Homo sapiens: one gene and its partner. The protein of the gene in region 2 interacts with the protein of the main gene of each other region in a pairwise test. Each region holds a gene or a part of one and is shown on either strand. Other genes may lie near its edges.

Region 1 (4,480 bases), on a different chromosome or scaffold from region 2:
GGTGCGGGCGCTGGGGGCTCCGGATACAGCCTCTGCTGCGCCGCCTGTGGTGCCTGGTCTCCCGGCCCTAGCGCCCGCCAAACCTGGTGGTCCTGGGCGGCCCCGAGACCCCAACACATGCTTCTTCGAGGGGCAGCAGCGCCCCCACGGGGCTCGCTGGGCGCCCAACTACGACCCGCTCTGCTCACTCTGCACCTGCCAGGTAGGAGGTCCTGGAAGGGCACACTGGGTCCTGGGATCTGGAGCAAGGGGCCTGGACACTCCCGTCAATGCCTCTGCTCCTCTCTGCAGAGACGAACGGTGATCTGTGACCCGGTGGTGTGCCCACCGCCCAGCTGCCCACACCCGGTGCAGGCTCCCGACCAGTGCTGCCCTGTTTGCCCTGGTGAGTTCCCCGCAGGGGAGTGGAGGGAGGAGTTGGCCCAGTGCGGACAGGTCCTTTGGGGAGGGAATGAGGGTGGTCACTCTCTGCTTTCACCATTTCTTTGGCTCCACAGAGAAACAAGATGTCAGAGACTTGCCAGGGCTGCCAAGGAGCCGGGACCCAGGAGAGGGTGAGCTGGAAGGGTGCGTGCAGGGTGGGAGGCCCCAGAGGAGCCATTAGGTTGAACCAGGAGGGGGACAAGAAGGGGAGAGTATATAGGGGGTGGCCTGAGGGGCACAGATTCCAAGTGATGCCTGACAGGACTCATTAGTGTTACTGGCCCCCAGGTGGGCCCTTGGCTTAGGCTCGTGTGGGGGTGGCCTGAGGCTCAAGCCTTGGTTGTGGGCCCAGCTGATGAGCTCATACTAATGGCTGCTGGGCCCTGTTCCCCACCAGGCTGCTATTTTGATGGTGACCGGAGCTGGCGGGCAGCGGGTACGCGGTGGCACCCCGTTGTGCCCCCCTTTGGCTTAATTAAGTGTGCTGTCTGCACCTGCAAGGTATGGCCACCCAATCTTCTCTGGTGCCATAACCCAGCGGGGTCTGCAGAGATGGGGAGGGGCTGCCAGGTGAGGAAGGCCCGTCCTTGGTGAGGAGGGCTCAAGAATCAAAACGATATGAGAAAAGGCCCTTGCGCTCTGAGAGTCGGCTTCCTGTGGGAAAATGAACAGGGCTGACCTGGGTGTGGATTCTGGCTCTGCCAGCTAACTAGTGCCAGTGACCCTAGGCACCTTCTGTCCCTGAGCCTCACTTTCCTCTCCTGTAAGCAGATATGATGGCACCTACCTTGCAGGGTTCTGATGAGGAGCTGAGTTTAGGTCTATAAAGCCAGTCCGGGCCTCTGAGTAAAAGGCCACAGAGAGACTGCATTTGAGGTGTGGAATAGGAGAGGGAGTGGGCAGGAGGCTTATGTGCCCCCTGCCTGACACTCCTTGCTCAATGGATCCCTACAGGGGGGCACTGGAGAGGTGCACTGTGAGAAGGTGCAGTGTCCCCGGCTGGCCTGTGCCCAGCCTGTGCGTGTCAACCCCACCGACTGCTGCAAACAGTGTCCAGGTGAGAGAGGTGGCTGAGCACTGAGGCCTCACCTTTGGGTTGAGGCAGGCTTTGTCCTGGGTGAGGGGAAGGGTGCTCAGTTAATTGAGCATTATACTGAGCACTGCTCTGTGCCTAGCCTGGAGCCAGGACTCTAAATGCAGTGGAAAGAATGTGATATACTAGTGGGGTATGATGGGTTCTGGTTCCTGCTCCATCCATCCGTCCATCCATCCATCCATCCATCCATCCATCCATCCATCCATCCATCCGTCCATTCATCTATCTATCCACCCATACAACCATCCACCCATTGATGCATCCATCCATGCATCCATCCATCCCTCCATCCATCCACCCATCCACCCATTGATGCATCCATCCATCCATCCATCCATCCATCCATCCATCCATCCATCCGTCCCTTCATCCATCCATTCATCTGCCCACCCACCCATCCAAATTTATCACCTACTAAGTGCCAGAAACTGCAACGTGCTGGGTATTCAAAGAGAATACTCATAAAACCTTGTTGGTCCTCCTGGGCTGATCCTTTCTCTTTCCCTCTCAACAGTGGGGTCGGGGGCCCACCCCCAGCTGGGGGACCCCATGCAGGCTGATGGGCCCCGGGGCTGCCGTTTTGCTGGGCAGTGGTTCCCAGAGAGTCAGAGCTGGCACCCCTCAGTGCCCCCTTTTGGAGAGATGAGCTGTATCACCTGCAGATGTGGGGTAAGTGGGGAGCAGAGGCTTGTGTGAGGTGGGTACTGGGAGCCTGGTCTGGAGTAGGGAGACCTTCCCAGGGAGGTCCCTGAAGAAGCTGAAGGTCACTGTGTCCCAGTGCCTCTGGGGGACACTCAGTGTCTGCTCTGTCTTGTACCAGGCAGGGGTGCCTCACTGTGAGCGGGATGACTGTTCACTGCCACTGTCCTGTGGCTCGGGGAAGGAGAGTCGATGCTGTTCCCGCTGCACGGCCCACCGGCGGCGTAAGTGAGGGAGTCCAGGGTCAGCAGCTGTGAGTGGAGGGCTCACCTGCCTGTGGGACTCCTGATCAGGGAAGGGAGCACTCACTGTGTGCAGGAACAGTGCAGCCTGCCTCACAAGTGCCATTCCAATCCACCCTCACAGCAACCTGGTGGAATTGTTATTTATGACCTTTTCTTTACAAATGAGATTTCTGAAGCTCAGAGAAATTAAGCAACGAGATGAAGGTCACCCAGCTGTGTGCACTGACCTGTTTAGAAAATACTGGCCTTTCTGGGACCAAGGCAGGGATGCTTTGCCCTGCCCTCTATGCCTCTCTGTGCCTCTCCACTCCCTCTCCCCTCCTCCAACATTCCCTCCCTTCTGTCTCCAGCAGCCCCAGAGACCAGAACTGATCCAGAGCTGGAGAAAGAAGCCGAAGGCTCTTAGGGAGCAGCCAGAGGGCCAAGTGACCAAGAGGATGGGGCCTGAGCTGGGGAAGGGGTGGCATCGAGGACCTTCTTGCATTCTCCTGTGGGAAGCCCAGTGCCTTTGCTCCTCTGTCCTGCCTCTACTCCCACCCCCACTACCTCTGGGAACCACAGCTCCACAAGGGGGAGAGGCAGCTGGGCCAGACCGAGGTCACAGCCACTCCAAGTCCTGCCCTGCCACCCTCGGCCTCTGTCCTGGAAGCCCCACCCCTTTCCTCCTGTACATAATGTCACTGGCTTGTTGGGATTTTTAATTTATCTTCACTCAGCACCAAGGGCCCCCGACACTCCACTCCTGCTGCCCCTGAGCTGAGCAGAGTCATTATTGGAGAGTTTTGTATTTATTAAAACATTTCTTTTTCAGTCTTTGGGCATGAGGTTGGCTCTTTGTGGCCAGGAACCTGAGTGGGGCCTGGTGGAGAAGGGGCAGAGAGTAGGAGGTGAGAGAGAGGAGCTCTGACACTTGGGGAGCTGAAAGAGACCTGGAGAGGCAGAGGATAGCGTGGCAGTTGGCTGGCATGCCTGGGTTCCGCAGAGGGGCTGGGGATGGTTCTTGAGATGGTCTAGAGACTCAAGAATTTAGGGAAGTAGAAGCAGGATTTTGACTCAAGTTTAGTTTCCCACATCGCTGGCCTGTTTGCTGACTTCATGTTTGAAGTTGCTCCAGAGAGAGAATCAAAGGTGTCACCAGCCCCTCTCTCCCTCCTTCCCTTCCCTTCCCTTTCTTTCCCTCCCCTCCCCTCCCCTCCCCTCCCCTCCCCTCCCCTCCCCTTCCCTTCACTCTCCCTTCCCTCTCCCTTCCCTTCCCTTCTCCTTCGTTCACAGCAATGGGGTCTTGCTATGTTGCCCAGGCTGGTCTTGAACTCCTGGCCTCAAGTGATCCTCCTGCCTTGGCCTTCCAAAGTGTTGGGATTACAGGCATGAGCCACCACACCCAGCCCAGCCTCTACCTTCTTTGTCTAAAGTGAGGCAAACACTTTTCTGTTTTTTTCCTGGAAACTCGTGTTCTGGACCAGTTCTGGGGCAAACTGGGGTCAGAGTGGATTGGAATCAGCTCTGATCCAGCTTTTGGCTGTGCTTACCTTGAGACCAAATCATGTAGAGAATAAGACAAGACCCTCCTGCCCTGTTACCCTCTTCTCTCTCCCCTCCCTCATTCCTACCATCAAGACCCAGGCATTTTGACAAGCTCTAGGAAATGAGGGTATCAGAACAGAAATCTAACAAATGTATGTAGCTGCAGATCCATCTTTCATATAAACAATGTGGAGTCAAATGAATCTGGGATTTTATGATCTGGTAGGGCAGGGGAAAGGGAAATCATAGCTTGCTTATGGAGTGTTAGGCATGCTGTATGTGGTTAAGAAGTTATTGTCTTAGCCCATTGAAGCATCGAGTTCCAGTTCTGCTGTTAACTAGCTGAGTTATTTAACTTTCACAAACCCCCATTTCCCTTTTATAAAACACATGATATCCCCCTCACAGGATTCAATCAGAACACGTGCATTACACAAGCTCAGGGCCTGGCACGTATTCGCTGCAAAAGGCACTCTCCCCGAGGTGGGATTTG
Region 2 (5,462 bases):
GATCACACCGGAGAATGTGTGGAAGCAGCAGTGCAGTGTGCAAAGCAGGGACCCTCAGCCTGTCTCCTGGGCTCCATCCAAGTTGCTTGTCTTGTCTGTCCCTCAGTTTCCTCATCTGTTCAGAGGGTACTACAATAATACCTACCTCTGTAAATTGCTGCAATGAATTACATGAGGTATTTCCTGTCAATCTCCTTGAACATTAATTGGCACAGTGGAAACACTATCTATTAGTTCTTCATTCTGATGTTTCTAAATTAACACAAACTAATGCTGTTTCTAAATTAACACAACTAATCTAAATCTTAATGCTGCCTCTCATACTAATAAAGTATTTGGGCATATTTCCTTCATGGCCTTATTGTCTTATATCTCACACTTTATGCTTCAGATATGATTCTTAAAACCATATCTGAATATTGATTTAAAAATGAAATATTTTTAAAGTCCTTGACATATTTGTCCTTGAAATACCCAGTAAAAGGGAAACCATCAGTCCCATAGTCCTAGGGGCCTTCCCGACTGTACAAGAAATCACTACTTCATGCCCCAGTGCAGTGTTTTAGAGGAGAGGCTGCAAGACTTGGGAAAGTGGCCCCGCATTCAGAGTCAGACCTCAGGGGCTGTGAGTTCTGACTCCACTTCGTTGTGGTTGAATCATCTTGTCAACTTCCTTGATGCGCCCTTGAGTTTCTCTTTCTTCGTCTTTAAATTTTGGAGGATCAGATGCCAGAAAGTCAGGAGACTGAAGAATAAAGATGTGGAAATCCCTGTCTAGACCCTGGTACTGGGGAGAGTTTTGTCCTTGGGATGGACCTGGCTCCTGCCCTGTAGGCAGTGACCACAGCAGCATGTCCAGCCTTCCACTGAGGCAGGCGTGTCTGTCTTTTCTCAGAGTATGAAGAGTGTAAAGACCTCATAAAATTTATGCTGAGGAATGAGCGACAGTTCAAGGAGGAGAAGCTTGCAGAGCAGCTGAAGCAAGCTGAGGAGCTCAGGTGAGGGGACCCCGTGGGGGGAGGGCAGGCGGGTAGGTGTGTAGATCTCTGAAGTACAGCAGCTCGGCGGGGAGAAATAAGAACGAAGCTGGGCCAGGGGAAGGGCAGAAATTGCCATGACAGGCTCATGACACACAAATATTTATCAGTGAACAAGGATAATAATAAGTTCTGTGTTGCAGTTGTTTCTTAGAGCCTTGTTTTCTCTTTTTCAAACAAGTAATTGTTGAGGTGAAATTTACATAACACAAAATTCACCAAAGGAGTGGGAACCACCCAGCAGCATTCAGTATAATCAAAATGGTGTGCTATCACCACCCCACTTACCCTTAGTGAGAATCACCTCCTGACTGACTGCGTCTTCTCATTCTTTCACTCAATCAATGTTGCCTTCTTGACCCTGTCCTTCTTTTCTTCTTTCATCTTTTCAATTCGCCCCATCTGCACCTGGCCTCATTTCTGTACATGGCTTTGTATTTAGTGGCCGCAAGATGCACTATGTGTATTTTCACATGGAAATGTCCATGGCCAGAGTGAGGAACTGAAAGGATGTCTTTTTGAAACGGAATTAGGAAGACACCTACTTTTGTTTACAGAAGAGAAAGATGAATGGAACATCATCGAGGATCTTGCAGGAGCCCTCTCTGATAGAGGGAAAGCCTGTAGACCATTTTCTATTCTTCCTCTTGGCCACAGTCATTCCTTTCAACATGTGCTGACCTTCTGCTTGGAGGTCTCCTTGAGGACATTGTCTCAGAAGTCTCTGTTGCAATATTTGAACGGATCACTCAACCCTTTCTACTCTTAAATTTTCTCTACCGTCTCACCTTAGGCAATATAAAGTCCTGTTTCACTCTCAGGAACGAGAGCTGACCCAGTTAAGGGAGAAGTTACGGGAAGGGAGAGATGCCTCCCGCTCATTGAATGAGCATCTCCAGGCCCTCCTCACTCCGGATGAGCCGGACAAGTCCCAGGGGCAGGACCTCCAAGAACAGCTGGCTGAGGGGTGTAGACTGGCACAGCACCTTGTCCAAAAGCTCAGCCCAGGTAAGGTGGCCATAGGCCCTGATGACCCAAAACCCCAGGCTTATGAGAGGCTCCAGACCTCCATACTTTCACAATGACAGTTATATCAGTGGGGTTTTTTTCTACTACACCTATGTGGCCATGACATGATCAGGACTTCCTGGGTAAGAACAGAGATGGGAAACCCATGGGTTTGGAGGTCACAGTATTGCAAGTGTCCCTCCTTCCTTGATGGAAGGTGGTCTTTGGAGCAAGAGGCAGCATCTATCTAGTTTTAAAGGACAGGAAGGAGGCTGTGATGGAAGGGCGCTTGTTGGAGTGAAAAGAGCTCTGGGCTAAGAATGAAGGTTCCCAGGCTGTATTTTTGGCAGTGTTCTTAGTAAGTGTCAGTGAGTGATTTATCTTTTCAGAGTTTCTCTCTCTCCATCTGCAAAGGCAGACAAATTGTCTCTTGCAAGGGTCTGAAGCATCCAAATATGGGAACACTTACGAATGCTTTTCAAAATGAGATGAAGCCCCTCTCCATGTGGTGTTGGAGAAGGCACTTGATGTGGGGGCATTTGGTGGTAGGAAGTGCTTCAGACTGGAGCACTCCCCATGGATAGAATGTCCCTGAATAACACAGCAGAAGCCACATGGAGGGCCTGTGCAGTCTCATGACGCATAGAGGACTGTGGGACAAGTTTGTCCTCTCCTAAGAGAAAGAATGAGGTTTGAAATGCAAACCGTGACAGGACACCAAGCCTGTGCCTGGGAATCAGATCTGGCAGGATGGGGGAGACAGCTGCCAACGTCCAGAGAGAGGCTGCACAAGCCTCCAGTGATATGGGAAGCAAAAGGTCTTTTCAATATTTGGCCACATCTTGATGGTGGCCCTCCAGATCAGAAATGCATTGCCTGATGGATCAGGAAACCATGGCAGGGCATTCTGTTAAAGATAAAACATGAGAGTTTTCAGTTGAACGGTGACCCATGCCTAGATGTTCATGTCTCTGTTGCACATTGGGCTGACTGTGCTTGCAGACTGTGAAGTGGGAAATATCTGAACGAACACTTCTGTATTTACAGAAAATGACAACGATGACGATGAAGATGTTCAAGTTGAGGTGGCTGAGAAAGTGCAGAAATCGTCTGCCCCCAGGTAACACTGAATACTCAGGAACAATTAATGGATGGTAACATATGAGGAATATCTAGGAGGCACACCCTCTCTGGCATCTATGATGGGCCAAAAACCCGCATTCGCTTGGCCACAGTATGTGAAATATAATCCAGCTTAGACACAGGGTGCGGTAGCTGTCATGTTTCTCTATGTGTGCTGAGTGTCATGTCTGCACCTTACAGGGATAGCTGAGTCTTCATCCTCCTCAGCTCCTATCTGTCCAGTGCAATGAACAGCAGCTGCTCTCTTCCTCTCTGGTTCCCATGGCAGCCATGCTCTGTTGCAGAGAGAACAGGATTGCATGTTCCCTCTTAATGGGAACCTCCATTTTGCTTTCTGGGACCACTCTCTTAATGCCGCCTGTCAAAACCAGCTAGGACTCCCTGGGGTCCAATCCCTCTGTGTTTAATCTTCTGTCATCTCTGTCCCACCTGGCTCATCAGGGAGATGCAGAAGGCTGAAGAAAAGGAAGTCCCTGAGGACTCACTGGAGGAATGTGCCATCACTTATTCAAATAGCCATGGCCCTTATGACTCCAACCAGCCACATAGGAAAACCAAAATCACATTTGAGGAAGACAAAGTCGACTCAACTCTCATTGGCTCATCCTCTCATGTTGAATGGGAGGATGCTGTACACATTATTCCAGGTAGCCTCTGTTTTCCTTGTGTCTCATACCTCTCTCTAGGCTGAGAAAGATAAACTCTGAAGACAGGCTCTATAAACACAAATTCATTTGAATAAAAAACTGTGATGGGTTTCTAAACAGATATCAGGGAGTTTTTTTGTCCTTCTCAGCTAATGTCATGACTTTGTCTGCCAGTCCCCAGTATCAAGTTACTCAACCCCAGGCAAGTGTGACAATCTCATAGTCACCTGAGTGCAGGAGGTGCACAGGCAGTATCTGTCAGGCCTCCTATCTTCGATTCAGTATCTCTTGTCATCTGTGATTAAGTCATCTGTCCCTGAACAATGTCCATGGAGTTTCTATGCCTGTTTAAGGAAGCTGGCAGCCTTGCCTTTGTATTTGGAAATATTGTTCCCCAGGCTTCACTGCTCTCAGCTTTCATCTGGATCTCCTTTAAGTCAGCTTGCTTAGCTGCACAGTCACCCTGAAATCAGGACGGAAACTTTTCTTCTTTACTTTGCTGATATATTTCCATAAAGCAAGGCTGGACCCTGGTTCTCCACCCTGTCAATGCAATGGCTGATCCAATGTTTCTTTGTAGCATCGTGGATTTTTTTTTTTTTTTTTTTTTTTTTGCAATGGAGTCTTGCTCTGTCACCCAGGCTGGAGTGCAGTGGCACCATCTTGGCTTGGTGCAACCTCTGCCTCCCAGATTCAAGTGATTCTCCTGCCTCAGCCTCCTGAGTTGCTGGGACCACAGGTGCACAACATCACATCTGGCTAATTTTTGTATTTTTAGTAGAGACAGGGTTTCCCCATATTGGCCAGGGTAGTCCTGAACTCATGACCTCAAATGATTCACCTGTCTTGGCCTCCCAAATCACAGATTCTTTTTAAAGCAAGAGTTGTTAAAATTTATCTATCAGTCGTGTTTCATGTATAGATGCCTCTAAACATTTAATGTCCATGTTACCTGGTGATATAAGTCCGTATCGCAGCAACACTCTTAGAAAATTGTTTGACCAATTTTTGGAGATTTTTTTGGGGAAAAAATTTTGTTTAACTTTGACTCAGGCAGGGAATATGGCATTATGGTCTACACGTAGAGGGAGATTTTGGCCTGTGGGTCTGGAAAGCAGGGTCATCTAATTCTCACCAAAGTTAATCTAGGACACCCTAGAATATTCCTGTCAGAATCCTTATTCTTGCACTGAGAATAGTTATGTCCTTGTGCTATGACTGGACAGTGATTTGTTCATATGTGAAGTATGAATTGCTTAATGTGACCTGCTTCTCTGAATTTATTTACAGAAAATGAAAGTGATGATGAGGAAGAGGAAGAAAAAGGGCCAGTGTCTCCCAGGTAATGTTGTGGAATTGTTGGCTGTTAATTCAGTAGTGACATCTGGAGATTGTAGATTTAGGGAAAATGAGGAAGTGATGAATAGAACTATTTCTTCCATTCACCCAGCTACAAATTGTGCTGATTTACAATGTTGTATGTTATTTGTGGCACTTGTATTGGTTTTAATTTCATAGTCCTCTCAAGATAGGAACTTGCCATCAGATGAGCCAGGTGAACTAGCCAAACAGGGTTTTCTTGTTGATCTTTTCAAAAAACCAGCCCTGGATTCATTGATTTTTTGAA

What was found. Proteins that work in one complex are often made in the same cells at the same time.
Region 1: the proteins of NBPF19 (region 2) and CHRD interact in a two-hybrid assay, tested with the Homo sapiens proteins (one large-scale study listed by BioGRID).

The regions. Positions count from the first base shown.
Region 1 is NC_000003.12:184,386,554-184,391,033, forward strand, and holds the end of CHRD (chordin isoform 1 precursor), read left to right. Parts: coding exon 1-202; intron 203-291; coding exon 292-385; intron 386-497; coding exon 498-554; intron 555-820; coding exon 821-924; intron 925-1,377; coding exon 1,378-1,480; intron 1,481-2,033; coding exon 2,034-2,188; intron 2,189-2,339; coding exon 2,340-2,442; intron 2,443-2,813; coding exon 2,814-2,869; 3' UTR 2,870-3,276; downstream 3,277-4,480. UniProt on the Homo sapiens protein: Dorsalizing factor. Key developmental protein that dorsalizes early vertebrate embryonic tissues by binding to ventralizing TGF-beta family bone morphogenetic proteins (BMPs) and sequestering them in latent complexes.
Region 2 is NC_000001.11:149,477,050-149,482,511, forward strand, and holds part of NBPF19 (NBPF family member NBPF19), read left to right. Parts: intron 1-895; coding exon 896-998; intron 999-1,830; coding exon 1,831-2,045; intron 2,046-3,092; coding exon 3,093-3,165; intron 3,166-3,629; coding exon 3,630-3,835; intron 3,836-5,125; coding exon 5,126-5,177; intron 5,178-5,462.